Linked DNA regions of Homo sapiens. The protein of the gene in region 1 purifies or fractionates together with the protein of each later gene. This does not show direct contact. Each region holds a gene or a part of one and is shown on either strand. Other genes may lie near its edges.

The links. Proteins that work in one complex are often made in the same cells at the same time.
Region 2: the proteins of GLS (region 1) and SUGT1 fractionate together in Homo sapiens (co-fractionation; one large-scale study listed by BioGRID). This does not show direct contact.

The regions. Positions count from the first base shown.
Region 1 is NC_000002.12:190,963,343-190,966,117, reverse strand, and holds the end of GLS (glutaminase kidney isoform, mitochondrial isoform 1 precursor), read right to left. Parts: 3' UTR 566-2,775; downstream 1-565. UniProt on the Homo sapiens protein: Catalyzes the first reaction in the primary pathway for the renal catabolism of glutamine. Plays a role in maintaining acid-base homeostasis. Regulates the levels of the neurotransmitter glutamate, the main excitatory neurotransmitter in the brain.
Region 2 is NC_000013.11:52,655,836-52,659,494, forward strand, and holds part of SUGT1 (protein SGT1 homolog), read left to right. Parts: intron 1-1,696; coding exon 1,697-1,787; intron 1,788-2,263; exon of another isoform or gene 2,264-2,372; coding exon of another isoform or gene 2,373-2,391; intron 2,392-2,563; coding exon 2,564-2,633; intron 2,634-3,343; coding exon 3,344-3,414; intron 3,415-3,659. UniProt on the Homo sapiens protein: May play a role in ubiquitination and subsequent proteasomal degradation of target proteins.

The DNA of each region.
Region 1 (2,775 bases):
AACTTTGATAAATGAAAATGTAACAGTCATGGTGTTCATGTACTTTCTCTATGGTTGGAAAACTATACACTAACCCCTGGCCTGAAAGGAAAGAGTGCTCTGAAGACCAGGGATTTCTGGCATTGGAAGCGAATGCTATTCCCACGCAGAATAAATTAGGAGCTGAGGTGTACTGGCTGGTGACACTCAGATTCTAGTGTGGCAGTACTAGCTTCAACTCTCTAAATAAATTTCAAGGCTTTGTGAAAATAACCTCTCTTCTCATTCAAGGGTATGTTTACTGGTTCCATTCAACAAATATTTACTGAGCACTTCCTAACTGTAAAAGGATAGTGTTTGCATCTAGAGGACTAGAGACATGCCTGCACATCCCTCACCTTCAAAGGTGAACTCTACACAGGATTCTTGTCCTAGTCATTGTGGCAACCCCATCTGACACCTTGTGTAGTACCTAGCTTTATAGCAGGCATTAGAAATGGATTGGAACCTAACCAGAGATGGTCTGTATGCTCAGTGGAGTTCCTGGCTCTTAATTGTTTTAAGAAAATTCATTTTTTCCACACAGTTTTTTTTTTGATACATATATTTATTATGCTGTAAAAAGCAACACTACCTGATTGCATTTAAAATAAATGTTTCCCAATTTCAGAATACTTACAACTTGTAGTTTTAAGATTAGATTCACTTTGGGAGGTTTTAGAAGCAAATACATTCATAGCTGTGTAATCCCCAGGAAGAATCTAAATCTGACATCAGGTCATTCAGTCCCTGCCAGACAGACAACAGCATCAAATGGTCAACAGCTAATCCAGCTCTGCAGCTAAAGGGCAGTGTCGGGCAGCAGTGGGGTATAGCATATTACCAAAGATGAGACCAGCAAAAACAACAATGTGTATAAAGCTTTAAATTAACATGATCATATAGAGCGCTCAGGATACAGAAAAAGCACATATGATACTAAAGCCAAAACAAAAAGATCTTTGGAGTTTACTGACGGCAGCAGTTAATAGCACAGTCAACAGCATTTAAATCAAATATATTATTACCAGCCAACAGCAAACAGCCCGAGCAGGAATCGGCACATAGTCATAAATAACATCAGGGGTAAATAACGGCACATTTAATTAAACAACAAAGATTTTACAGAATGGTTTTGATCTGAAAAAAGATGAAAACTCTCTTTGTTCCCAAATAATGGTTAGAACCTCTTTTTATTATAGAAAAGCCTCAAAATCATTGGTAATCTTCAAGTCACACAATTCAACTGTCTTGTTTCATTTTAGTCACACAAAGCGGGCTGCTCTTTGAATAAAGTTATCTTGATTGATTTCAGTTAAAACGTGTCTACCCTGTAATATCTTTGGGGATAATGCTGCTCCTGTGCAGCATCTTACAAATGCTACCTGTCTCCATGGCTTGCTAGATCCACGGGGTAGGAAACTGCTCACTCAGCATCCTCCCCATGGAAGCTCAAGCATGGGAACAGCTTCGGGCCTGGTGCAGCTAAGGAACATTGGCCGTGGTTTCACCAAAGGAGGTGCCATCTAGGTAATGGGAGGGCAGTGGCAGGAGCCACTGGCTTAGACTGGAAGTGAAAATGAAAGCACCTGGAGGCTGCTGGAGTAAGGTGCCATCAGGCATGTAAAGTTTAGAAGCAGCAGAGTGTGCTCATAGAAAAAGAAAAAAAAAGGAATTTGCTGTATGTGATAACAACTAACATTCATGTACTTGAGCTCATTTCACTAAACACAGCTTCAGAGAAGTCCATTTGTGTGCATGTGTGTGTGTGCTTAATATCAGAACTCCTCACTAACATGCCACTTTATCTCGAGGTATGACAGGATAAAATGTATGTGTAACTCCTAGAAAATCCTGTTCTATCCGTTTTTTGAAGCCCCTTTTACCCACTTTCCAAATGAATCCTGAATTACCAACCCAAGACAAAGAATTATAGGTCACAATTTAAAATGAAATGGCCTTTTTCTTATTATTAAACTACAGAGCCCACCAAGAATTACACAATAGAAAAATCACAAGAAATCTGGAATGATCCAGTGGTCCCCCAAGGAGGACAAATCTCTTGATGCAGACTCTTAATGACAGGCTTGGAAACAAATGTTTGTTAGTTGTAGCAGTTCCCATACTTTCAGAATAACTTTGGTAGCTTAGAGCATTTCTGAATTTATCTTTACCCTAGAAGCTAAAAAAAAAAAACTTCTTAAAGAGCTGCAGTTGCACATCCCTTCGTTTTTTAGACTGATAAACTTGACTAATTTATACTTAGTAATTTTGTCTCTGGTTCGTCTTCTGTAGACAAATGGCAAAGTTCTGATGCCAGAAATAGGAGGCATTTTCTGACTTACTATGGAAAACATAAAAACTGCATAGTATGCCAGCTCTCACTTTCCCAGCTAAAGGAAAGAGGCAGATAGCTAAATGTCTGAGAAGAGAGGCTGGACTAAGGGGATATAGAAAAAGGAAAATTTTTCAAAAGCATTATAACTACATTCACACATACGTTTTGGTCACCAAACATATCTTAAACAGATTCCCTGATAAAGTCTAATCAGAATTGGTCTATCTTACTAACAGTTGTTAACTATTATAGTTTTTTAAGAGTCACATCATGAAGCTAGGGGGTGAGAGAGACATTTTAAACACACAACCGTAAGTGCATATAGTTGTTCAAACACTTAAACTAAATTTGTATTTGAAGTCTTGAAAATCACACTATTTGCTTCTAAAGGCAACCTTGACCCATTTGGACAGACTGTA
Region 2 (3,659 bases), on another chromosome or scaffold:
TGCCCAGGACCACTGTCTAGGCTCAAGATAGACTTGAGTCATCAGCATGCATCAACACATATGTGAAGCCCCCCAGTAGTTAAGGAATCAAAGAATGTTTGTAGAGGGGAAGAAGTCTTAAGTACTGAGCCCAAGGAGAACATTAGTTTTTAAGAGGCAGCAGAATGGTAAGCTGAAAGGCCTGGTTATTATTGTCAAGGGCCACAGAGAGATCAAGTCAGATAGGAATCAGTTGGATTTTATAAGGGGTTATTAGTGACTTTGAGAAGATTAAGACTAGAGAGGCAAATATTTTTGTATTCTATGGCAAAGGAGATGCAGTCAAAGTAGAGACTGGGGAAAAGGCTGAAAAAAGTCTGCAAGAAGAAAAATCAATACTTTTCATTGAGTGATTACTGGATGTCACATACAGATCTAGGCAAGCCCAACACCCTGGAGTCATCTTCAGTTTCTCTTATCCCACATGTTCACCCATTAGCAAGTCTCTCTGCTTCTAATATGTTCCAACTTAATCGTATTTCTTTTCATCACCTCTGTGGCTAACATCCTTTTCTAGCCTAGACTTAATGTAATAGTTTCCTAAGAAGTCTCCGTTTCCAGTCTTGATTTGATAATGTATTTACCATACTGCAGCCAGAATGACATTAAAAAAAAGTAAATTGGACCATGTTCCCCTTACTAACAGTGAACTTTCCATGGCTTTCCATCAAACGTAAGGTCCAAATTCCTTATAACTGCCTGCAAGCTACAAAGTGAGGCCCTTAAAGTAGCATCTTACAGCTTCTTTGCTCTCTTGATTTGAGCCTTACTTTCTGTTGATTGACTGTAACCCCATGTGAGTTGAGGAGCATCTGTATATGTTGCTTTCTGAGAGTCACACTACTAGGTTAAAGCAAAGTCAATGATACATGTGGCTCTTGAAATAATTTTACCATTTAAGAAAACTACCAAATCCCTAGAGTTTGTAGGCAGTTGGCAGAAAATAAAAGTGTTCCTGCACTTGTCTTTGATCTCCCTAATTGTGTAATCTCTTACATCATTATTTTTCCAGCTACCACACCTATATGTTGTGACTGCACAAGTTAAAAAAGTTTCAATCTCTAATGTTAACTCTTGGTAGTTGACATAGCCATCTATTAGATTGTATCTGGGCTTTGAACAGAATATTTAGTTGGGTTTTATTAGAGTTGTGTGCTATTGTTAGAGGCTAGGAGAGGGCCAGGTACACTTGATTGTGTATGTATTGATTGTCTTAACCTCCCTGAGTGCTAGATTTAACTTCTGGTCTTTTTTTATTGCACAGCTTAACATTTTCTAGGAATCTCAAATTCTATATGGTGTTTGAATCTTCTTCAAATTAGTAGGAGGAAATCTGTAATGGTCAATGTGTAACAATTAAACTCTTCAGAATATATGAGCTGATAATAATGATCATTTATTAAGTTCTATAGACCAGGAACTAAAAGCTTTACGGTACAGAGATGCTACATTAGATTGCCTACTTTTGGGAGGAGGGGCAAGAGAAGTGGGGGAGATATTGATCCTTTTATAAGGAAAAACTCCAATATTATATCCGTGTTATCTTTCCTCCAAATAGCTTCTGACAATAAGTTACTTGATTAAAAATTATGTTTTAATTAGAATTTGATGGCTTCTTACAAACTTTTACTGACGCTCCACATGTTTGTTTTTGTAGGAGCTGACTAAGGCTTTGGAACAGAAACCAGATGATGCACAGTATTATTGTCAAAGAGCTTATTGTCACATTCTTCTTGGGAATTACTGTGGTAACGTTTCTTATAAAGTATATTGCCCCCTTTTAATAAGTTACTTATACATTTTACCCATGACAAATTAAAAGTTGTCTTTGAGAATTTTTAAATTGGTCTTTTATACAAGGTAAAGTAGCTCAAATGTGACAGACATGTTGAGCAACACCCATTTAAATTTTATGGATGTCGCTTTTTCCTTCATTGGGTGGAGAATGTATACAGATTTCATTCATAGTTATTGGGTATGCTGATAAAAAATAGCATCACATTTACTATTTGACAGACTATTAAAATGAAATGCTCGTTTAAATTTTTTTTATAAAAAAGAATGTGGCCAGGCATGGTGGCTCACGCCTGTAATCCCAACACTTTGGGAGACCAAAGCAGGAGGATCATTTGAGCCCAGGAGTTCAAGACCAGCCTGGGCAACATAACAAGACCACCTGTATTTAAAAAGTAATGTATTTCTGTATTTTGTACCTTCTGAATAGGGAAAAACTGAATACCTTGAGTAAAATTACATAGAAAATGTTAATGAGACAAGGAGGTGAATTTTGTGACACAGCTGTATTCATTGAAGAGCTTTAAGAAGGAAGCTAAATGTTAAGCCAAAAGGAAGGTACAAGAGTAATATTTATTTGAATTCTATCTTGTATTAGCTTTTCCTAATTTAAAACCATTTGGCATTTCTACCAACTTGAAAACTTAGAAATCTAAAACTGATTCATATGTTGTGTGTATTTGCTAGGATCTATAAATAACTGACTAAAAACCCGTCTTTTTCTACACAGTTGCTGTTGCTGATGCAAAGAAGTCTCTAGAACTCAATCCAAATAATTCCACTGCTATGCTGAGAAAAGGGTATGCAGTAGCTACTCTTCTTGTTGAGCTTGGTATAGATAGTAGGTATTTAATTTGTTGAATGAGTTCATTGCAAGCTTTATATAAGTTGTAAAATTCTGTATTTATACATTATATAGCAGAGATATGATTCAATTTTAAATACAACTTATAGTTCTATTATTTTGTTAACCAAAGTATGTGATAGGAGATCTGTACTTAGTAAATTTTAAAATAGTGATGATTGAAGTATTTGCAAGGTATAGATGAAACTGATAGATTTCACATTGCTTTTTTTTTTTTTTTTTTCAATCTTTTGGAATTTACTATATTTAATTGACTGGACAACATCCTATTCAGCAAAGCTGAATAGGCTACATTTAATGCTATGAAAGCGCTATATCTGTATACTTTATATCCCATCTTGTTTCTGTTGATAAGTATAACTATTCTTTAAGAAACTTCTTTAATTCCTTTGTATAATTATATTTTTGAGTAAGCAAGTCTGTACAATTAAAGTCAGATTCCTTCTGAAGTGAGTTCTAAAATTGAATTTTAGTAGGAATTGTACTAGATCTTAACAGTATATTAGAAAGTCTCTAGGTTTATTAACATACACTTAAAATAAATTTTTTCTTTCAACAGTAGAAAATACTAAGTTTTTTATTTAGAAAGAAGGTATTTTCCAGATTTTTTGTGTGTCTTAATTTGTTTTAAATATATTCATGCAGAATATGTGAATACCATGAAAAAAACTATGCTGCTGCCCTAGAAACTTTTACAGAAGGACAAAAATTAGATAGTAAGTATTAAAAATTATACTTTAATAAACTTATCTATTTCTGTCTTAAATACCAAAGCTGAATTTTGGTAATGTTAATTTCAAGTTAATTGTAGAAACCCAATACCTGTTTTTCTCATCTAAATTATATTTCATATTGATTGCAGATATGAGATCACTTAAAATCGATTAAATTAGCCTTTTGGCATTTAAATCATAGATGAACTTCACCATTAGAAGTAAAAAAAACTATGGAAACACCTAAC